Linked DNA regions of Homo sapiens: all the other regions are linked to region 1. Evidence: fine-mapped expression QTL. A gene starts in region 1. Each other region holds a variant in brackets. All regions are shown on one strand. Distances are between the middles of the regions.

The links. PIP is the estimated chance that this variant, and not a neighbour inherited with it, causes the effect.
Region 2: its variant is fine-mapped to the expression of FCRLA in whole blood (TOPMed, PIP 0.96).
Region 3: its variant is fine-mapped to the expression of FCRLA in whole blood (TOPMed, PIP 0.90).

The regions. Positions count from the first base shown.
Region 1 is chr1:161,701,753-161,709,570 of GRCh38, forward strand. It overlaps FCRLA (Fc receptor like A), which reads left to right and starts at 5,477. Exons shown (of 5, transcript NM_032738.4): 1 at 5,477-5,591. The coding sequence starts at 5,513. RefSeq lists enhancers at 4,013-4,232, 5,773-5,952.
Region 2 is chr1:161,645,384-161,655,988 of GRCh38, forward strand. It overlaps a transcript of FCGR2B not described here. Among named protein-coding and RNA genes, the nearest start is that of FCGR2B, 12 kb to the right of the region's middle. RefSeq lists a silencer at 2,052-2,111. The variant T/A (reference allele first, on the strand shown) is at 4,916.
Region 3 is chr1:161,676,817-161,682,757 of GRCh38, forward strand. FCGR2B (Fc gamma receptor IIb) reads left to right here. Exons shown (of 8, transcript NM_001394477.1): 7 at 512-549; 8 at 660-1,838. The coding sequence ends at 737. Among named protein-coding and RNA genes, the nearest start is that of FCGR2B, 17 kb to the left of the region's middle. The variant G/C (reference allele first, on the strand shown) is at 2,629.

The DNA of each region.
Region 1 (7,818 bases):
AAAAAAAAAAAAAAAAAACAGGTGTAGTTGTGTATATATGTGGTCCCAGCTAATCAGGAGGCTGAGGTGGGAGGATCACTTGAGCCCAGGAGGTTGAAGTGGCAGTGAGCCATGATCATGCCACTGCACTCCGCCTTGGGAAACAGAGCAAGACCCCGTCACACACACACACTCACACAAAGATTGTTTTTTAAAAGATAATGATAAGAAAATGACAACACAAGTCACAGACTGAGAGAAAATATTTGCAGAACATCTATCTAACAAAGGACACATATCTAGAATTTTTTTTTAAAAAACCTCAACTCAATAAGAAAACAACCCAGTTTTTAAACACTGGCAAAAGATTTGAATTGATTCTACCCCAAAATATATATGCAGTTAGTAAATAAATACATGAAAAAATAAACATCCTTATTCATTAGAGAAATGCAAATTAAAACCAATGAGCTGTAGGAAACACCAGTTAGAATTGCTAAAAGTAAAAAGACTGACCATACCAAGCATCATTGAGGCTGTCTAGCAACTGGAGCTCTCATACACTGCTGGTGGGATTGTAAAATGGTTCAACCATTGTAATGGTTAACTATGTGTCAACATGACTGGATTAAGAGACGCTCAGACTGCTGGTAAAACACTATGTCTGGCTGTGTCTGTGAGAATGTTTACGGAAGAGGGCTGGGCGCAGTGGCTCACGCCTGTGATCCTGGCACTTTGGGAGGCCAAGGCAGATGGATCACCTGAGGTCAGCAGTTCGAGACCAGCCTGGCCAACATGGTGAAACCCTGTCTCTACTGAAAAGTACAAAAATTAGCCAGGGTTGGTGGCGGGCGCCTTCAATCCCGGCTACTTGGGTGGCTGAAGCAGGAGAATTGCTTGAACCCAGGAGGTGGAAGTTGCAGTGAGCCGAGATCACGGCTTTGCACTCCAGCCTGGGTGACAGAGTGAGACTCTGTCTGGGAAAAAAAAAAAAAAAAAAAAAAAGGAATATTTATGGAAGAGATTAGCATTTGAATTGGAAGAGTGAATAAAGATCTGTCCTCACAAATGCATGTGGGCATGATCCCACCACTCAGGGCCTGAATAAAACAAAAAGATGGAGATAGGGCAAATTTGATCTCTCTGATTGAGCTGGGACATTAACTGCCCTCAGACACCAGCCCTCTTGGTTCTGAGTCTTCAGACTTGGACTGAGACTTATTGACTCCACTGATTGTCAGGCCTTTGGACTTGAACTGAATTACACCATTGGTTTTGTTGGTTCTCCAGCTTGTTGATAGCAGAGGGTGGGATTTGTCTGCCTCTAAAATTGCCTGAGTCAATTCCTGTGTTTCCTTGTATGCATATATTAATTCTGTTTCTCTGAAGAGCCCTGGCTAATACAACCAATTTGGAAAACAGCTTGGCATTTTCTTAAAAAATTAAATATTTTTAATTTTTAAAGAAAAATTAAATTACCTACATAAAATTTAAAAAACTACCTAAAAATACACCTACACCTATATGATCCAGCCAGTCCACTGCTAGGTACCCAAGATAAATGAAAGCCTGTGTCCATACAACTTGTACATGAAAGTTTATAGTACCTTTATTTGTAGTAGCCGTAACTGGAAGCATCCCAAATATCAAACAATAGGTGAATGGATAAACAAAGTGTGGTACAGTCATGTAGTGGAATATTACTCTGCAATAAAATGGAAAGAACTGTTGATAGACACAACAACATGGACTAATCTGAAAATAATTATACTGAATGAAAGAAGACAGACAAAAAGAGCACATGCTGTATGATTTCATCTATGTAAAATCTCAGTAAACTATAGAAAACTTATCATGACACAAAACAGATTAGTGGTTGCCTGGAGAAGGTGGATAGAGAGGAAGGGATTACAAAAGTGCACAAGTAAATTTTCAGGAGTAATTCATCTGCTTATTATCTTGATTGTGGTCATGTTTTCATAGGTACACACTTTTGTTAAAATTCATCAAATTGTACAATTTAAAGATGTGCATTTAGCGTATGTCATTATTTCTCAATAAAGTGATTTTACAAACACAAAATGAAAAGACAAGCCATAAATTGAAAAATATTTGTAACAAATATGACTGACAAAAAATTTATGTTTAGGACATATACAATCTCTTAAAAGTCAATAAGAAAATTCCATTCATATATGTACCTTCGAGAAACTCTTATAATAACAAATTATGTACATGAATAGATGCATGGTTTTTGACAGCAAAAACCTGAAAATAACTCACATGTCCATTGTCAATAGAATAATTTGTGACATGATCACATGATGAAATACTTCACAGCAATACAATTAGTTAACTATAGCTACACAGAACATCAGGTTGTATTTCAGTTGAGTTAAACGAAAGCAAGTTGGCTGGGCAAGGTGGCTCACCCCTGTAATCCCAGCACTTTGGGAAGCCGAGGCAGGTGGATCATGAGGTCAGGAGTTCGAGACCAGCCTGGCCAATATGGTGAAACCCCGTCTCTACTAAAAATACAAAAGTTAGCCGGGTGTGGTGGCACACGCCTGTAGTCCCAGCTACTCAGCTACTCGGGAGGCTGAGGCAGAAGAGTCGCTTAAACCCGGGAGGTGGAGGTTTCAGTGAGCTGAGATCAAACATACTGCACTCACTCAACAGAGTGAGACTCCATCTCAAAAAAAAAAAATAGAGAAAGCCTTAGAATGATAAATACAGTACAATTCCACTTACTAAAAGTTCAAAAATACAAAATGATTACTACATAAAATAAAGAGAGTGATAAATATAAGGTAAAGATTGTGGTTGATGATGGTGGGGAGGGAAGACAGTGTAATCGGACAGGGATCTATGCAGTACTTCAAGGATAACAGTACTAGTCTGTTCCTTCAACCATATAAGGTTTCAAAAGTATACACTGCATTATTTTTTACACCTTCACATTTTTAATAAATATTTTTATCTACTCAATTAAAAATAAAGAAGAGATAAGCATTAGTCCACTAGTGACAAGCCAGGAATGGCAAAGGAGGGCATCCACCACCTAATTGGTCTTGGGATGGGATGAGAGCTGGGATTTGTCCCATCTCCCCCTGAGTATTCTGAGGTGATCCTGATGGAGGAACTTACTCAATAAACCGAATCTCAGTCTCCATGAACAAACAGCAGACCCAATGTTGCTTTTTCCTCGCAGTGAATCACATCTATTCTAAATAGTTCATTGATTAAGCTTCAAGCGAGTAAATTTTCCCAGCAGCTTAATGGAAATTTCAGTGTAAAGAACTTGATAGCTTCACCCCAAATCTTCAGAAGGCCCCTTGCCTTCCATATTGACAGTGGGGTCCTGCAAGGATTGCTGCAGATGGTATAGGGGAGGGTCTCTATCCAGGTAAGATGCTATGGTAAGGACAGTAAAGGAGAAAGGGTGACATAAGAAGAGAAAGATATCATGATTTGTTTAGAAGCCCCTTAGCCTCTGCCTAACCCTGAGGGTCTATGTTTTATGTAGTTTTAGGAGTGGCGATGCATCTAAACACATTTTATTTGTTTAATTCGTACACCTGTAATCCAGCACTTTGGGAGGCCGAGGTGGGCAGATCACGAGGTCAGAAGATCAAGACCATCCTGGCTAACAGGGTGAAACCCCATCTCTACTAAAAATTCAAAAAATTAGCCGGGCGTGATGGCACGCTCCTGTAGTCTCAGCTACTCGGGAGGCTGAGGCAGGAGAATGGCTTGAACCCTGGAGGCAGAGGTTGCAGTGAGCCGAGATCGCGCTACTGCACTCAAGCCTGGGCAACAGAGACTCCATCTCAAAAAAAAAAAAAAATTATTAAGGCTAGCTAGGCTTTTCTTCCTCTTCTGAGGCTTCACATCACATCAGCTGCAAGGCTTACTGCCTCACTGCCTTCCCCAGCACCCATATTCAACCACCCCTGGACTCCCTGGGGCCACCTGCACAGAAGCGTATGCCTCTCGATAATGGAAATTTTATTCTAAATGCTTATTTTAGACTCAGAAAGATCCACTCTCTTATGCCCGTGTGGTTGATATGTCTGCTCTGACCTGTGGTTTTTGCACAGTTGAAGGGTCATACTGTCCCTCTCTCTGCCTTCAAGGAGGACCAAACTACCTTCCCCCATTTCTCTCTCTCTCTTTTTTTTTTTTTTTGTGAGATGGAGTCTCGCTCTGTCACCCACACTAGAGTGCAGTGGTGCAATCTTGGCTCACTGCAACTTCTGCCTCCTGGGTTCAAATGATACTCATGCCTCAGCCTCTGAAGTAACTGGGACTACAGCCATGCACCACCATGCCCATCTAATTTTTTTTTTTTTTTTTCAGTAGAGATGGGGTTTCACCATACTGGCCAGGCTGGTCTTGAACTCCTGACCTCCAGTCCAGTGATCCGCCCACCCTGGCCTCCCAAAGTGCTGGGATTACAGAGGCATGAGCCACAGTGCCTGGCCTACCTTACCCCATTTCTGATGGCTCATTTCATCTCCAAATAACCTACTGGAGGCCTGGTGGGTGTTATGATGACAGAAAGGGGAGGAATGTGGCCACTGTGAAAAGACACATGGGCCCTACCATTAAGTAGGCCTCAAACAAATAGCAAACATTCAGAGGCAGGGACAATGGTTCCCAGGAGGCCATCTGGAACGGAAGGGAGAGGCTGTAGCCTCTATATTGCTCCTATTCCTGAGTCTCCTCAGGTTTCTCAAGATATCGGATGCCTCCTATCTCTAATTTCCTCAGGATCAGTGGCCTGAGCTTTGGCTATGAGCCTAAGCCCTGAGCTGACTGCTGGATCCTCTGGGAATAGATTTTCTTTTTCCTCTACTCTTTCCCAGTGGATTCTCCCTGCCTTGTACTCATATTTCCACTGAGACTGAGCAGACTTAGTCATGCTCCAGAAATAGAGAGCTGACACGAGTCTAGAGAAATTTGCATGCAAATTTGTGTGGGCTTTGGATAGTCAGAGCCTACTAGAGACTAATCTGATATCTAACTTGGTGCCGTGACTAATCTTCCTTCTCTGTCTCGCTACCTTCTAGTCACTAGAAACATATAAGTGTTGGAATGGGCAGGACATTTGAATTCTCATCATTGATTCTCCAGTGATTTTCTATTGGCCTTCAAACAACATCCCACCTTCTGTCCCCAGTTGCATCACCAGTGAAAAGGGTGGTTGTTGCACTGACCTTTCCCAGAGTGTACATGAAGGCCAGCTGGCTATCAGACAATGACATGCTTTGACAGGCCCCTGAGCTCTGTGAGTAAATTCTTGAACAGCTGAGAGTGCTACCATTTTGTCATAGCCCTAAGGGTGCAGATGATGCTGAAAGCGTGTTGGCCAAATCTGAATGATGAAAGCCAATTACAAACTAGAAAATGAAAACAGACCCCAGATGCAAGGAGATGAGACAGTTAAATTTACTTCCTCTTTTCTAATCTGAGAGGTTTCATGTTGAAGAAAATCAGTGTTGGGGTTGCAGGAGACCTAAACACAGTCACCATGAAGCTGGGCTGTGTCCTCATGGCCTGGGCCCTCTACCTTTCCCTTGGTGTGCTCTGGGTGGCCCAGATGCTACTGGGTAAGTAAAATATTTGAATATTGGTGTGGGAATGGAGCTTTGCTTACCTTGGGAGAAAGGACCAGAAGGAAAGAAACATGGACTAATTCTGGCCCTCCAAAGAAGCAGTATTCAGGTGGAATAAGAAGGGTAGGTATAAGAAAGTTTGGTGTACAGGATTGAATTACTTTCTGAATATAAAAATCTTCCATCCTGAAAGTCCCCTCTGATCATGATATCCTCTCTAGCTCTAATCTCAACTCTTTTCTTTCACTTGTGAGACAAGTTTTCTTAAAAGAATAGTTTGCACTTGCTATCTCCACTTCCTCACTTCTCACACGCTCCTCAATGCTTGCAGCCTGGCTTCCACTGGAATTGGTTTTGTCTAGGGCACAACGATCTCTATATTGACTGGGTTATGGCATGCTTTTCAGTTCATATCCTGCTGGACTTCTCTGCTGCACTGGGCTCTGTTGATCACTTACTCCTTCTTGCATTCTCTACTACCCTGGCTTCCATGGCACCATTTTCTCCTTGTACTACATGGACTTCTCTTGATCCCTTAATAGCTTCTCTTCTCTTCCCCTTAAACACTAGTGTTCTCTATAGTTATAGCCTTGCCTCTGTACTCCTCTTTCTTTACACAATCTCCTTCATGAGCTTATTTGTCTGTTTAATTTTTGCCACTATAACTCTGTATTTAAGAGTCCCAAATCATATCCCCAACCCTAACCATGCTTTTGAGCTTCACATTCAAATATCAAGCTTCATACCAGACATATCTACCTACATATCTCACAAGTGTCTCTGCACCATGTGACTAGAGTTGAACTTATCTGTCCTTTTGGCCCCTGCCTCATCTAATTCATTTTCCACTTTCTGATCTCAGCTAATGACACCAGCATCTACCCTTACAAGGCCATAAACCTCAGAAACAACCCAGACTCTTCCTTCTTTTTCATTCTCTAAATCTGATCAATCATTAGGTTTGGCCAATTTTACCTTCTAAATTGTTCATAGAAGCAGTCCCTTGCCTGGATCATCACTAATGTCTTAGGACAAGCCCTCATCCTCTATGACTTGGGCTATTCCAGTAAATTCCTAACTAATCTCCTCGTCCAAACCTTGTGTTCTTGAAATGAATTCTGTACCCTGCAGACAGAGTAATTTCTAAAACTCAAGTTTACCAGCCCAAATTCTTTATCATGGCACAAAAGGCCAAGCAGCCTCTACTTTTACCCTCTCAGCCTTGTAACTTATGCTCTAATAAATCTCAATCAGTTCATATTTACATACTCACACACCAGACTCTTGCCTGTCTCTAAGGCTTTGCTTATACCACTATCTCTACCTGAAATGAGTTCTTTCCATGGCACCCTACTCTCCTTCTCCTTGCAAATGTGTAGGTACCCCTAAAGACTCAGCTTAAATGGTATCTTTTCCAGGTAGCTTTTCTTGAATGCTTCTTTCTGCTCCAATGGCTGCTTGCGATACATTTTTCTTATTATAATATTTTCCTACTTATGCTGAAATAATATTTTCATCTACCTGTGTCTTCCACTAAATTGAGAGCTATTTGTGGGTAGTGACAATGTTTTTTTGTTTTTGTCTTGTGATAAGAACTGCAGACTTGGAATCAGATACTCCTGTTTCAAGCCCCTCTTCTATTTACCAGCTCTATGTCACTTTAGAAAATCACTTTTTCTATTTCTGGTTCAGTTTTCTCATTTGTAGAATGAAAATAATAATACCTACCACCTAAGGTTTATTGAGTGAGTTCCCAGTAACCCAACAAGATTTTATTTTATTTTATTTTATGTTTTGAGACAGGGTCTCGCTCTGCCACCCAGGCTGGAGTGCAGTGGTGCAATCACTGCTCACTGCAACCTTGACCTCTTGGGCTTAAGCAATCGTCCTATCTCAGCCTCCCAAGTAGCTGGGACCACAGGCAAGTGCCACCAGGCCTGGCCAATTTTTTAAAAAATTATTTGTTGAGACAGGGTCTCTCTATGTTCCCCAGGCTGGTCTCAAACTCCTGGGCTCAAGGGATCCTCCCACCTCAACCTCCCAAAGTGCTGTGATTATAAGCATGAGCCACCACGCCTGGATAAGATTTTATTTTTAAAAAGAAAAAATGGAGAGGAGGCAGAGCACAGATGAGTGACAGTGGAGGAACTGAAAAGAGGTAGCATTACAGTGAAGGGAGCGGAGAAAGGATGGAAAGAAAACACCTGGTACTGATGTGATG
Region 2 (10,605 bases), 55 kb before region 1:
GTTTTTTTCTGAGACAGAGTCTCATTCTGTTGCCCAGGCTGGAGTGCAGTGGCATGATCTCCGCTCGCTGCAACCTTTGACTCACCTCCTGGGTTCAAGTGAGCACGTTAGGCTAATTTTTGTATTTTCAGTAGGGACAGGGTTTCACCGTGTTGGCCAGCTGGTCTCGAACTTCTGACCTCATGTGATCCACCTGCCTCGGCCTCCCAAAGTGCTAGGATTACAGGCATGAGCCATCACGCCTGGTCTCTTTTCTTTCCTTCTTTTTTTTTTTTTCCTCTATTTTTTCCTAAGCTTAGAAATCTTTCTTCCTTCAGAGAATTTACTCAAGATTCAATTCTATTATCCTCTTGTGTATCCATAGCTTGATTCATGTGTTTCACTCTATGATCCTTATGAAACAGATTTGCTTGTATTCTGAGAGGAGCTGTCTGCTTAACAACTTGCCTGGCTCGAGGGGCTTACTAATGCCTTTTAGCTCCCTGCTTTTTGACTCTCTTTACAACTCTCCTTAGAACCCAACAAAAAGAGATATAAAATAAGTGACATAAAAATGTGAAGTGCTTAAACCATTTATTTTACATTGCTGACTTTTTTCCATGTATCTTTCCTTTCTGATTAGTACTTAAAATCAAGGCAGAAGCACCTTAAAGATAGAAATGGCTAAATATTCTTGAACCTTTCAATCGTAGGATGCCAGAACAGGCCTCTAGCGTAGAAAATGTCTATACTGAGATCAAAGAGTCTCCCCTAGAGCAGAGTTTGTTGTATTCTGAGTATGAGGAGAGTAGGACAGTGTGATGAAGCTGCAGTGGAGTAAATGGTTTTTGGTATCACAGTGCTTTACAGAACACATTAAGGAGTTTGGGTTTTGTCGTGAGGGTGTGGGGAGCCACTGAATTATTTGAAGCAGGAAAGTGACATAATATAATTTGTACTTTAACAAAATTACTCTGGTTGCTGCTTGTAAATAGGCTGGAGGAGTAAGACTGGGAGCAGAAAGATGAGTTGGTCTCTTGCGGTAGTCATGGTGGCAGATGAAGATAGCCTCAGGCTAAGGTAATGGTGGTGGGGTTGAGATATTTAGCAAGAAGAACCGGCACAATTGGATGTGGGTTATGAAAGAGAATGTGGGAATCACAATGATATCCAGATTCCTGCTTTAGGAGGTGCCATTCCCTGAGGTGGGGAATATGATGGAAAGAAGCTTAGCTGGAAGGGGTTGGGGAGAGATGGTAAGTTCAGGTTTGGATATTCTGCGTTTGAGGTGCCTGTGGACATAGCAGGAGAGTGGTCAATATCAGCTGGGTAACTGGAAGGAGAAATCTGGGCTAGAGCTAGAGACACAGACTGGAGCTGAATTGTGCTTTTAGAAAATTAACTGGAAGCCAAAGAGATGACTCCTTATTTGCTGATACCTTGCAGCAGGTCTATTTCCAGTGACAAGGAGGCAAGTTTGAATTGGTTAGAGCCTCATTCACAGTTCTTCAAATGTTCTTGTCAAGTATTTACTTGCTACTAAGGAGGATGGCTTCAACCTTCCCCAGGACCATTTTCCAGCATCCTTCAGCATGTTTGGCTTAGGACCAAGTTCCCACCCTCCTGAATTTTACCCTTGCTGGAGACACATGCACTTGATACAGTTAAAGGGCAAAACAGGCCTGATGGGGAGGTTCCAACGCATTTGCGTTGCAGACCGTAGGTGTTAGAATCTAACTCCTAGTTTTCTACTACAACTTCAAATGCCACCCTCCTCACTAAGGGTCTAAAGCCAGAGTGCGGATGAATGAATCAAGCCTTTCTTTCTGAGTACCACTGTCTGAAGTCATGCTGAGGTCAAGAGACATTCAATCAGAAGAGCAGACCAAGTGGCTTAAGGTAAGTGCAGCCCCGGGTTCTCTTTGCTCTGGACTCTTTTTTTTTTTTTTTTTTTTGAGATTGAGTCTCGCTCTTGTCACCCAGGCTGGAGTGCAGTAGTGTGATTTCGGCTCACTGCAACCCCCGCCTGCCGGGTTCAAGCAATTCTCCTGCCTCAGCCTCCTGAGTAGCTGGGACTACAGGCACCCACCAGCATGCCCGTCTAATTTTTGTACTTTTAGTAGGGACAGGGTTTTGCCATGTTGGCCAGGCTGGTCTTGAACTCCTGACCTCAGGTGATTCCCCCCACCGCCTCGGCCTCCTAAAGTGCTAGCATTAGAGGTGTGAGCCACTGTGCCCGGCCTGCTCTGGACTCTTAATTTCACTCCCCTAGACCATTAGTTGGCTGTTTCTTGCATTAAACCACTCAGATCTCTCTTTCATTTCCTTGTAAACTGGATTCCTTCGTCCTGCAGAAGAGATGTATATTGTCCACTTTTGTTTCAACAGAGGGCAGTAGAGAACAGCAAACAGTTTACATTTCTAAGCCCAGAAGAAATAAAACAAATCCATTTACAACATTCTCCTCAGGTCAAGGTACCCAAAATATGGCACACTGTGCTTCGTGTGTTCATAAATGGGGCATGTCCTTGTGAAAGTAGGGCAGATCCCGGAGAGTCAGCGACTCGTAGACGACCCTTCGTCTTGTGAACAACAGTTTAGCTATGTGTAACTCATGGAAGGCTTTATGGAGAAGGAGTTTGATCTTGAAGGATAAGTATGAGTTGGGAAGATAGCTTTGTTCACAGAAAGCAGCATGGGCTCAAACATGGCAATAGCATGGCAAGCTTGGGGAAGTTAAGAATAGGATTGGGCAGAATCTGACAAGACCGCAATATACCTCAAGACTCTAGGTGCTGGAATCTTCAGTATGGCACATAGCATCCTGTGCCGTGGGGCAGCTGTGATATTACATACACTCTCAGATGCTATGTGCCATCCCGAAGTGTTTGAATGTCACTTTGAAGGGTTTAATATCATCCTGAAAGCAATGTAAAATCATTGAAGAATTTTGAGTAGGGTGGTGATCTAACCTATTAGGCAATTTGAGATTTTCTTGTTTGTTTTTAATTGAGGTATATCATGGTCTTGTTAATCTTTTAAACTTTAGCCACCCAGGTGGGTATACAGTGATATTGTGTTTTTAATGTGCGTTTCCCTGATAAGTAGTGACTTATTATCTTTTTATGTGCTTATTTGGTCATTTGGATATCCTTTTTTATGATGTTTCTGTTTAAGGCTTTTGCACACTTACGAATTAGCTTATCTTCTCATTGATTTTTAATAGTTTTTTATGTATTTTAGATATGTCTTTTGTCAAATATACCTATTACAAATATTCCTCCTACTCTGTGGCTTTCCTACTAACTTTTCAAATGATGTCTTAATTTTTTCTTTCTTTTTTTTGAGGCAGAGTTTTGCTCTGTCGCCCAGGCTGGAGTACAGTGGCGCAAGCTTGGCTCATTGTAACCTCTATGTTCCAGGTTCAAGTGATTCTCATGCCTCAGCCTCCAGAGTAGATGGGACTACAGGCACACACCAGCATGCCTGACTAATTTTTTAATTTTTATTTAATAGAGATGGAATTTCATCATGTTTGTCAGGCTGGAACTTTTTTTAATATTATATTTCAATAATGATTATACCAAAAATATATTTTGTATTATTTGAGAAAATCTGTAATGTATATTTGGGAGATTAATGAATACAGTTATGAAGGTCACTGAAGCATGACTCTTCTAAAACAAGTTAATAATGCATTCTACAGAAAACCTTTTAGACATTACAACCTCTAACCTAAAAAATGGAACTCTAAATACCTTTTCACCATCTCAGTAGTAATTTCTGACACATCACTTTCAGAAGGCTCATAAGCCAACTCAGATACAACCGTAATATTAATGAGGAAAGCAGTTAGTGTCAAAGGAAGAGGATTGAAAGTAGAAGTGTTATGAAACTCCTCTTTTACTTTTTTGCATGCTATCAAAATCACTGCCAATAATATGAATGTCAGGTCAATTTCCATAGGTAAATCCGTTACCTTTTACCTCTTTAAAAGAAAAGTTTTGCAGAAGAGGGCTGAAAATTTCTTGAGCCATTTCAGCACAAAGAATGGAAGTTCATTTCTCACCATGATACAACTCTACCCTGCTGTCATCTTCATTGTGATGGTGGCAGAAGTTTAGCAGGGTGCAAGTGACCACTAAATGACATCTTTTCATGAACAATTGATAAATCTTTTTGAAAACCCTATGAAAGATGAATTGGAACGGAGCAAGACTGAGGCAGGATGACTAGTTAAAGGCTTGTTTCAGCCCTTCTGCCATTAAAGGACACGGAAGCTACCATCTAAGAAGCAGAGAGCGACCTCTCACCAAAGAGTCTGCTGGCACCTTGATCTTGCACTTCGCAGCTTCTAGAGCTATAAGAAATAAACTTGTGTTGTTTATAACTAGGAGGCCGTTGTACTATTATTATTCCTATTTTATGGTTGAGAAAACCAAGGCATGGGGAAATTAAATGACTTGCCTGAAGGTTTTCTACTGCTAGTAATTGGCAAGAGGAAAAGAAACGTGCAAGAACTTTATTGATTGGATGGGAATGGTAGATACATTAATTTGAAGGATTTTGTCTTAGTAGATCTTAGAGAAAGAAGAGTACATTTGGGAGAAATAAGTGAATTTTGTTTTAGAAAAAAAAATATGCGTATGTGTGTTTTATTTTTTAGACAGAGTCTCACTCTGTTGCCCAAGCTGGAGTGCAGTGGCATGATCTCTGTTCACTGCACCCTCCATCTCTCAGGTTCAAGTGATTCTCCTGCTTCAGCCTCCTGAGTTGCTGGGACTACACGCCACCATGCCTGGCTAATTTTTGTATTTTTAGTAGAGATGGGGTTTTGCCAAGTTGGCCAGGCTGGTCTCAAACTCCTGACATCCTTGGCCTCCCATAGTTCTGGGATTACAGGCATGAGCCACTGTGCCCTGCCAAAAAAAAGTTT[T/A]GAAGTGGAAATGCCTAGTAGGTAGCTATCATTATATTATATATATTATATATGATAAATATATTAATGTATCTTTCTAGAGTTAAGTAGAAAAGTGTTGGCCGGAGATAAAGACTGAGGAGTCATCAGCATATAGGGAGTGAAGCAAGGCTCTCATTCTCAGCATTATTGACACAGGGGGCCAGATAATTCTTTGTTGTGGGGGGCTATGCTCTCCACTGGAGGACATTTAGCAGCTTTCTTGGCCTCCACTCAATAGATGCCAGGGGAAGCCCTCTCCAGTTGTAATAGCCAAAAGTGTCTCCAAACATTGGCAAATGTCCCCTGGGAGCGGGGGGCAAAACCAACTCTGTTGAGAACCACTGGTGTAGAGGAAGCCAAGAATGTAGATAAAATCATTTAGAAGTAGTAAGACATATGCAGGATCACGTTTCTTAGCCCTTTAAAGTTCATTTTCAACCTCTTTGAACATAAACATACTTTGTTTAATTTTATCTTAATTTTCATATCTAGTTTGTCAAGTTTACAAGTATTAAATTGTATTATAATGCTAAAAAGGCTTTTAAAATTACACCTCTACCTCTCCTTCCCCCTCCAGTTCTGATGCACCCTTTGAGGGGGTCTCTTCTCACTTAGAAAATTATTGATAGAGAATTATGTAGAGGACAGAAAGCTGAACAAACACCAATATTTAATGGACAGGTGAAGACAGAGGAGTGTTCAGGGAGAGTAAGGGGAGTCATCAGAGGGACACCAGGAGGGGAACCCTGGTAAGTCGTGATGAAACAGATGGTGAATGACTTCAGAGTATTTTGGCCCTGCAAACTGCAAGGGTACATCGTAAAAGACTGCATAGTGCCCCTGGGGTTCATAAATCACTTCTTAGAGAAGTGAGAGAATTCTGAGTTCTCCCTGGGCTTAGAGTAAAAAAGGCATTTCCAGTGATAGGGCCCAATGCAACATTTAGGACAACTCGGGGAAGAAAACTTTGAGATTCAGAAAGAAAAATGACTTCTTCTGCCAAGGGAGAGATAAGGAAAACTGCAGATGAGGAGATGGCCTGAGGTTTTGGTCTTGAAGGGAAGATCAGAAAACAAGGTCTGGGTTCCCGTTTATTTTGGAAGCAAAGTATTATCGTGCATTAGAAACTAGGCTCTGTACTCTTCTTTTGCTTATCTTCATATCTTAGAAAACTTTTCTTTTAAAATCTTCCAGCCAGTTTAGTTGGCCAAGAGAAAGATTTAGATATTTTGACATTTCCGCCAATATAACTTCTGATTATCTCCTTTGTGGCTGGCTAGAGTGGTGGCACTGGCATCCTAGCTCTCCAATCAAAATTTTTAAAATAAAGATCTGGCCGGGCGCAGTGGCTCACACCTGTAATCCTGGCACTTTGGGAGGCCGAGGGGGGTGGATCACCTGAGGTCGGGAGTTGAGACCAGTCTGACAACATGGAGAAACCCCATCTCTACTAAAAACACAAAATTAGCCAGTCGTGATGGCGCATGCCTGTAATCCCAGCTAATTGGGAGGGTGAGGCAGGAGAATTGCTTGAACCCAGGAGGCAGAGGTTGTGGTGAGCTGAGATTGTGCCATTGCACTCCAGCCTGGGCAACAAGAGCGAAACTCCATCTCAAAAACTGAAATAAAATAAAATAAAATAAAATAAAATAAAATAAAGATCTATGGGCATTTTAATAATGCTCTATCTGTGATTTTCAGCAGTTTAAATATGATATGTTTAGGAGTGTGTGTGTGTGTGTGTGTGTGTGTGTGTGTGTGTGTGTGTGTATTTTAGTCTGCCTATGCTTCTTTGTCCTTCTTGGATCTGTGGTTTAATAACTTCCATTATTTTTGAAAAATTGTTGGCCATTTTCTCTTTAAATGTTTCTTCTCTCCCATTCTTTCTCTATTCTCTGGGATTTCAATTACATATATGTTAGGCCAGTTTACATTGTCCCACAGTTCTTGGGTGTTCTGTTCTATTTTCTTTTTTTTTACTCCTTGAATTTAAGTTTGGGTAATTTCTATGAACCCATTTTCAAAGTACTGATTTTTTTTTTTCTCAGCTGTATGGCATCTACTGATGACCCTGTCAAATACATTCCTCTTCTCTTTTACTCTGTTTCAAAATTTGCTAACATTTCCATTTGACTCTTCATATAGTTTCTATCTTTCTGCTGAAATTCCCCATCTGTTTATGTATGTTGTCTACCTTTTCCACTAGAGCCTTTAACATGTTAAGTATGGTTGTAATTAATGGTTTGATTTTAAAATTCCCTATTTGATAGTACCAACATCTGAATCATCTTTTAGCAGTTTCTATTGCTTGCATTGTCTGTTGACAGGATTTTTAAACCTTGCTTTTCTGTGTTGGCTCATTGTTTTTATTGAATTCTGGACATTATATGTAGGACAGTAGGGACTGAGGTAAATTGCATTTATGATTGGAAATGAGCACCCCTCTTATTCTGGTAAGCTCTTAGTGTGGGCCAATCTAGTCAAGAGTTGAGCTGGGTTCGGGTTTTATTATTGCCATAGTTACCTTCAAATTCTTCTAGTGTTATCTTGTGCTTGGGTGGAGGCAGCATTTCAGTAGACCAAGAGACACCGGTATTCCCGGATGGTATTTTCTCAATTTTCCTGCACTACCCCAACTTTAGGACTTTCTAAAGTATGTGCCTGCACCTCAGAGATTCTCTCTTCAGTGGCAGAGTACTTTTGCTTCTTATTCAGTACTTGCTAGGCTGGGAGGTAGGGCAGAGGTTTATCTGTTGTGAAATTGCCTTTGCAGAATATATATATAAATAAGGAGAGAAATCTGGCTGGGCGTGGTGGCTCATGTTTGTAATCCCAGCACTTTGGGAAGCTGAGGCAGGTGGATCACCTGAGGTCAGAAGTTCGAGACCAGCCTGGCCAAGATGGTGAAATCCAGTGTCTACTAAAAATACAAAATTAGCTGGGCATGGTGGCAGGCACCTGTAATCCCAGTTACTTGGGAGGCTGAGGCAGGTGGAGAATTGCTTGAACCAGGGAGGCAGAGTTTGCAGTGAGCCAAGATCCCACCACTGCACTCCAGCCTGGGTGACAGAGCAAGACTCCATCTCAATAAATAAATAAATAAATAAATAAAAATAAAAAATAAACGAATAAAGAGAGAAATCTAACATGACTGACTCCATCCTGCTTCTAACCCACAGGCGAGTTTTTTTTTTCTTATTCTAGCATGGAGGTCAAAATAGCTATGAGTGACGTTTATAGTTAAACTTTGAGTCAAGGGAAACTGATCTCCCTCCTTGTTCAAGATTGAAACTGCATTCATAAGACAAGGTTAAAATACGGTAGGGACTTTAACTTTGCTGAAGAATAGACTCAGTTAAACAATGACCTGCCATTGCTTAGTGTGTCTTCCTCACTTCCTTGCTTTCCATGTGTCCTTACAGTAGCATGTTGCTTACTGCACCAGAGTCACGTAACCGGGGATTGCAAAATTTATAACTTCCCCAACTACTCCTATAGATAACATCACTATTGTGAACCCTGAAGAACGAGTCTTCGAGGTATTTTTCAGATTCAACATTTCAGTAGACCAAGAGACGCCACTAGGTCCTGAGATCCACCCACTCCTGGGAACTGACTTGGCTGCGTGAAGACAGCTTTAGACACCCCTGTAATTTCATCCCCAGCCAATCGATTGTTCCAGTTTCCAAGCCTCCTGCCCACCAAAGTACCCATGAAAAACCTTAGTCTCTGAATTGTCAGGGAGATGTGTTTGAGAAATTGCTGCTTGCTCTCTTCACATGGCTGGCCCTGTGATTATTAAACTCTTTCTTTGCTGCAATAGCCGCTGTTCTTATTGATTTTTTCAGGGCAGTGGCTAAGAAGAACGTGTGGGGCTGTGACAGCTGTTCTAGTCCCGCCTCAGTTTTAGTCGGGCCTTCTGTCCCTGGATCTTGAGGACAGGGCTTTTTCAGTGATCCTAGATCTCACCCAATGGTAGAAGACCTGTAATCATCTAGGCTCGGGATGGTTTCCAGCCCCTTCCCCAAGGGTAGAGAGATGTTTGTTTTTTGTTGTTGTTGTTGTTGTTTTTTCCTGTTCCTTTCCTCCAGGTGTAATGGGCTCTTTTCCTGTGCCCTGGGCCCTTCTTCCAGTGATTTAAGACATTTGTTCCTTAGAAAAAAGGATTCAGGTGGGCTTCATGCCTTTCCCAGAATGATGGCTGCTCCATTACCTAGGTATGTATTCCCTGGCCACAAGCTTTTCATGAGCTCTGGTGGAGGCCCATGAAGATGCTTCAAATGCGTAGGAATGGCCCTTGTATCATGAGCTCTCAGTTCTTGGCCACATCTGGCTTTCAGCGATTTATTAAAAATTTTAGCTGAATTCTTCTAACCCATTTGAATGGTAGCCCTGCCTTCCTTCCACGCTGTCTTACAGGTGAGCCTGTGCTCATATCCTAGCCCTCTTTAGAAACACCTGTCTTTTCTTAGATTTCAGGGTATTTGGTTGCCTCACTACCTCAGCACTCTGATGGGTTCAAGAAAAGTTATCACTTTGTGTATTATCTGTTTTTTTTCAGGTGTTTCTAATTAATACAGGTTTTTTTGGGGGGTGTTTCTAATGAAAACATTTTAATGAGGCTGGTTTTCACAGCTGTTTTTATACCACAAATCAAAATGGCCAAGTCCAAAATGAAAAATCACCAGAATGGCAGGGCATAATGAATTTAAGCACAGAAATTAGATGAAGTTATCTGTTTCTCACATGACTTGATAATCTAAAAAGCAGAAAGTAAAATGGTATGTTTTAAAAGTTATCATCAAAAGTGTCCTTGAGGTCGGCACTGACTGTGTCCTGATGGCCATGCAGGCAGGAGTTGTGCTATGTAGGTAGGCTCTGCTATTTGCTCTTCACACCTCTGGTTAGTTTACAATCTCTCCTTGTTCTAAGTTTTCACCAAAGCCTGATACTGGCTTTTGTTTCCCTTGAGGCTATGTTGTTTCTCATATAAACATGATTTCCATTTTATGACTGTCCTAACCCTTCATGGTGCAAGCCTGTTTCTCTGAGCTACTATATTCTTCATATATTTATGTTATTACTTCTTACTATTCAGAAGTACCTTAATATTCAGAACTACCCTTCAAATTGGAGGGCTCTTTTCTGACCATATTCTCAGCTGTTGGACAGGGGACAGGGACCGATCATGCTGGGTGGTTGGAAAAGCCTATGGGAGGCCAAGTAGGGGAGACCTACTGCCAGGACTATCACTCCAAGCTCGATTCTTGGGCCTTCCACCTTCACATTCTAGAGGAAAGCATATTGCCACTCATCCAAGTTGTGTGCTGTGATTGCTAGTGAAATCTGATCAGCTCCGGGGGCTCTCAGCTCTTGGCTGTCAATGCAGGGTGATAGTGGGCTACAGGGGGAGGAGGTAAAGAAGAGAGATTATGCAGATATGTCTGAAATCACAATCTTTCTGATTAGATATTTTGGCTCTATAATCAATTGTTTCTTCTAACACTCACACTTTTCCTCAATTTTTATTTATTTATTTATTTATTTATTTTGAGACTGAGTCGCTTACTCTGTCACCCAGGCAGGAGTGCAATGGCGTGATCTCGGCTCACTACAACCTCCACCTCCCGGGTTCAAGCAATTCTCCTGTCTCAGCCTTCCAAATAGTT
Region 3 (5,941 bases), 26 kb before region 1:
CTCCCTTCCTCCCTTTCTCACTCACTCTCTCTTTCTTTTTAATGCCATGGAGTACCATATTTTTCAAAGTTCCAACAAAGATGCACTACATTTAGACAATGTGGAAATGGCCCTCAGCCTTCTCTCCCTGAAGTCTGTGGCCAGCAAAAATCTGGACTTTACTTCACTCTGATGCTGAACACCCCCCTCCCCCACCTCTTCCCCAATATCTCAGATCCCAAGCCTCCCTGGTTTGCTTCTAGGAAAGCTCAGCAATTCCCTGAAAAGAATGCAGCTCAAGTGACTGCTCCACTTTTTCACCTTGGCCTTTGCGGAAGGCTGTGGCTGGGCTACCCTATGCATCGATCAATGAGGTCATATTTACCCAGTGCTTGGCCTAGAGGCCCAAGACAGGGTCAGCAGTGCTTGCTTTGGCTCTAGTTTGGGCGTTGGTTTTGCAGCCTCAGCATCAGCACAGGCAGGCCCTCTTCTCCAGCAGTGCTCTGGCTGATATTTCTTCTTTTTCCCACAGCCAATCCCACTAATCCTGATGAGGCTGACAAAGTTGGGGTGAGTGATCCCAGCCATCTCCCCCTCCCTTCTCCCCTGTTGCCTTTTCTGTTGCCTTCTTTCCTAGGCCCTCTCTGTGGATCCTTACTGCTGGTTTCTGCCTTCTCTAGGCTGAGAACACAATCACCTATTCACTTCTCATGCACCCGGATGCTCTGGAAGAGCCTGATGACCAGAACCGTATTTAGTCTCCATTGTCTTGCATTGGGATTTGAGAAGAAAATCAGAGAGGGAAGATCTGGTATTTCCTGGCCTAAATTCCCCTTGGGGAGGACAGGGAGATGCTGCAGTTCCAAAAGAGAAGGTTTCTTCCAGAGTCATCTACCTGAGTCCTGAAGCTCCCTGTCCTGAAAGCCACAGACAATATGGTCCCAAATAACCGACTGCACCTTCTGTGCTTCAGCTCTTCTTGACATCAAGGCTCTTCCGTTCCACATCCACACAGCCAATCCAATTAATCAAACCACTGTTATTAACAGATAATAGCAACTTGGGAAATGCTTATGTTACAGGTTACGTGAGAACAATCATGTAAATCTATATGATTTCAGAAATGTTAAAATAGACTAACCTCTACCAGCACATTAAAAGTGATTGTTTCTGGGTGATAAAATTATTGATGATTTTTATTTTCTTTATTTTTCTATAAAGATCATATATTACTTTTATAATAAAACATTATAAAAACAACATTCTGTTTACCTTTTCAAGGCTGTATTGGTTGGAGTGTAGACTGAACTGCCTGGGGTCTGTTTCTCTTCAGTGATGAGACTCTTAGGAAGGCAGGAATGGATAGGATAGGGGGAGGAGAGGAGAGATGGGGATTTAGAATGTAGAGTGAGTGCCCCTTTTCTTAAAACTGAATACAGTCACGCACCACATAATGATGTTTAGTTCAACAACAGACTGCATATATGATGGTGATCCCATAAAATTATAATACCATATTTCTATTGTACCTTTTCTATTCCTATGTTTAGATATATGAGTACTTACCATTGTGTTACAATTGCCTAAAGTATTCAGTACAGTAGCATGCTGTACAGGTTTGTAGCCTAGGGGCAATAGGCTATACGCTACAGCCTAGGTGTGTAGTAGGCCACACCATTTAGGTTTGTATAAGTACCTGCTATGATGTTCACACAACAAAATTGCCTGCATTTCTCAAAATGTATCCCCATATTTCAACAATGCATGACTGTACTCTTCTGCCAATGACCTTGTATTCTTGTTTCCATGTCTTCTTCTCTTTCCTCCTATGGCAAATAAAACACTGTTTTGCAACACAAGTTCACGGGAAGTCAAACTTCAGATGAGCCCTGAGTGGAGATTGCTGACATGTCCTGCTCTGCTATTCTCCCAATGTAGTTACCAGAAGGATGTGACCTTCTCAGAGAAGTCATCTCAGGCAGATTAGAAACATGACTGGCAGTCTCCTTGAGGGTTTGGTGAGTGCCCTTGGAGAGGCTTCATTTTCCTGGGACTCTACGCAGTAACATCGTGCAACATTTGTTGCACTTTTTATGGTAGGATAAAAAGTACTCACTTTTTATGGTCCCACAATCAGATTTCATACACACTTATTGTTTTAGTAATAAGGGATAATAATTAAAATTACTGCGTTATTAAGGACTTACTTTGTGCCATATAGTTTGTGCCAAACTATATGCTTTAGAATTTAGAGAATTTACGATTAGCCTTTTATATTTCCTCTTTTGTGAGTTTCCTGTGTATTTATTCTTTGCCCATTTTTGTAGATACAATGTATGTCCCTTTATTTATAAATTGCATAGTAGTAACTTATTTCCTTTTATTTATATGTAAATTATTTCACTACACTAATAATGTATTCTTTTTATAAAATTAAGATACAGATAGGGAAAACAAAAAAATTAGATCGCCCATAAATCCATAAACCAGAAATAATTAATGCTAACATTTAAGGATATCAATCCATATTCCTGTCTGTGGCAGTGTGTATTTGTGTTTTAAAAATTGGATCTAATCCCAGCTACTCGAGAGGCTGAGACAGGAGAATCGCTTGAACCTGGGAAGCAGAGGTTGCAGCGAGCTGAGATC[G/C]CACCATTGCACTTCAGCCTGGGCAACAAGAGTGAAACTCTGTCTCAAAAAAAAAAAAAAATTGGATCATATCATATATTTTACATGTTAATAAATACACTCAGGCAAAAATGTATGCTCATTGTAAGCATGTAAGCCCAAATAATACAGAAAGATAAGGAGTAAAAAGTAGAAGTTCCATTTTGTCATCAGTTCCCTCTATCCTCTTCCCTTTTCTTTCTTTCTTTTTTTTTTTTTTTTAAGAGATAGGGTTGTAGTCCAGGCTGGAGTGCAGTGGCAGGATCACAGCTCATTGCAGCCTCAAACTCCTGGGCTCAAGTGGTCTTCCCACCTCAGCCTTCCTAGTAGCTGGGACTACCACACCTGGCTAATTTTTAAGAATTTTTTGGCCGGGCATGGTGGCTCACGCCTGTAATCCCAGCACTTTGGGAGGCCGAGGCGGGTGGATCATGATGTCAGGAGATCGAGACCATCCTGGCTAACACAGTGGAACCCCGTCTCTACTAAAAAAAATACAAAAAAAAAAAAATTAGCTGGGCTTGGTGGCGGGTGCCTGTATCCCAGCTACTCGGGAGGCTGAGGCAGGAGAAGGCGTGAACCCGGGAGGCAGAGCTTGTAGTGAGCCAAGATTGCACCACTGCACTCCAGCCTGGGCGACAGAGACTCCGTCTCAAAAAAAAAAAAAAAAAAAAGAACTTTTTGGCTGGGCGCGGTGGCTCATGCCTGTAATCCCAGCACTTTGGGAGGCAAAGGTGGGTGGATCACCTGAGGTCAGGAGTTCAAGACCAGCCTGGCTAAAACGGTGAAGCTCCATCTCTGCTGAAAATACAAAAATTAGCTGGGTGTGGTGGCTCATGACTGTTTAGTCCCAGCTACTTGGGAAGCTGAGGCACGAGAATTGCTTGAACCTGGGAGGCGAAGGTTGCAGTGAGCCGAGATCATGCCATTGCACTCCAGCCTGGGGAACAGAGAGAGACTCGGTCTCAAAAAAAAAAAAAATAGTTTGTAGAGACGGGGTTTTGCTATGTTGTCTAGGCTGATCTCAAACTGTGAGCCTCAGGCGATCCTCCCCACTTAGCCTCCCAAAGTGGTGGGATTACAGGTGTGAGCCACGGTGCCTGGCCCTGACATGCTACCTAAAGTCTGAAACTTGACTCCTGATCCCCAGGGTCAGTTTCTTTACTGATAGTTTTTCAATAAGCCATTTAGATAGTTGGCATGATTACGTAGCCAGAGGGGGCATAAAAATCCCTCTAGGAACTTCTGCTTTGAGCTCTCCCATAGCCAAGATTCCTTGTATGGATCCCGGTGGTTTAATCCAGACAAAAAGCGTAAATAAGTTACGGTAACTATAAGGATGCTAGGGAGCTTGCACATGGAATCTCTTGGACTCCCAGTAATTGCCTAGACTTTCTTTCTCTTGCTATACTTTTAAATAAGCACTTTGTTTGAGCATGCTCGGTAGAGTTTGATGAGTTCTTTCAAATATCCTCTTCAGGAAGGACATCCCTGACTGCACTTCCCCTACTGCTATTCCTCTGCTCTTATTTCCTTCATGGTATCTATCACTGTATGTAATCATGCATTTTTTTGCTTAAATATTTACTTACAAGTTCTAAAATGTAAGCTCACTCTGGGCAGGATGTTTGTATTATTCACTGGTGTATTCCAGAGACTAGAACAATGCAATCACTATTTATTGAATGAGTTAACGAATGAAATAATATTATATTTATCTAAAACTCTTAAATGCTTTAAATAGATCTTTACTATATTTGGAACTTATTTTTGGACTTGGTGTAAGGTGAGAACCTAATATAATTTTTCCATATGAAAGTCAGTTGTTCCAATATCATTTGTTGAACAGTTTAATAATTTGAAATCCTAATTTATCACCTAAATTCCCACTCATAGGTCTATTTTTAGCCTCTCTTCTATTACATTGTTCTATTTGTCTATTTCTGCATCAATACCACATTTTTAGTTATTGCAACTTTATAGTGTACTTTGATATATAGAAGGTCAAGTTTTCTCTCATTCTTTTGTTTCAAGGTTTTCTTGGCTACTAATGTGCTGCTTCTCTTCCAGATGTACTTAAGAATTCCATAACACTATTATGATATTGGTAGAATTGCATTGCATTTATAGATTATTTGGGTAAGGTTTGACATCTGTGTCATATTGAGGCTTCCTAAGTTACAACTCTTCATTCATTCAGACTTACAGAATTTTCCTATAATATCATATGAGCTTGGCACATTTTTTTGTGACAGATCTTTGACAGACTTTTCTTTCTGTCATTTTTGGTCTGGTTATGATTTTCTCTCTCTCGGGAGTCAATTTTGAAAACTTTTGCTTTCCTAGGAATCATCCATTTTATTGGTATGCAGTGGTACATCGCACTTTTCCCCTATTTTTTGGTAATAAGTTGTGTGTTTGTGTTTATGTCCCTCCTCTCATTCCTAGGTTTTGGGTTTTCTTTCTTTTATCAGTTAGGATGACTTCAGTTGGAAATAACAGGAAATCGTGATTCAAATTGGCTTAAACATTAAGGAAATGTATTATCTCACATAACAAAAAGTCCAGAGACAGACAGTTTCTAGCACATCAGAACTCTTGGTCCACTTTTCTACAATTCTGTGAGCACTGCCCTTGAGCTAGCAGCAAGATGATTATAACGGTTCTAAGCAGCATCATACCCAGACCACTATAGAAAGAAAGGGACTAACTATTCCTTTTATGTGTAGCCTTTTTTTTTTTTTTTTTTTTTTTTGAGACAGAGTTGCAGTGGCGCAATTTCCATTTACTGCAATCTCTGCCTTCTGGGTTCAAGCAATTTTCCTGCCTCAGCCTCCTGAATAGCTGGGATTAAGGCATGCGCCACCACACCCAGATAATTTTTGTATTTTTTAGTAGAGACCAGCCAGGCTGGTCTCAAACTCCTGACCTCAGGTGATCCACCTGCCTCGGCCTCCCAAAGTGCTGGGATTATAGGCGTGAGCCACTGTGCCTGGCCTTGTGTCTCTTTTTGACAATGAGGAACATTTTCTCAGAAGTTCTGCAACCATCTTCCCATCATATCATATTGGTCACGACTGGGTCACATGCTCATTCTTAAAACCATCACGAGAAAGGGGACTGAGATGACCATAATTCACTTAGCTTAATCATTTGGAGAGTCACCCATCCTGACACTATCTCTTTGTTCATCCTAATCAGACTTACCAAAGGTTTGCTTTATTAGTCTTGTATCAGCTTTTGACTTCTGGCTCAAGTACTTTGCCTTTTGCTTGTTTTCTAATGTATTATTTCT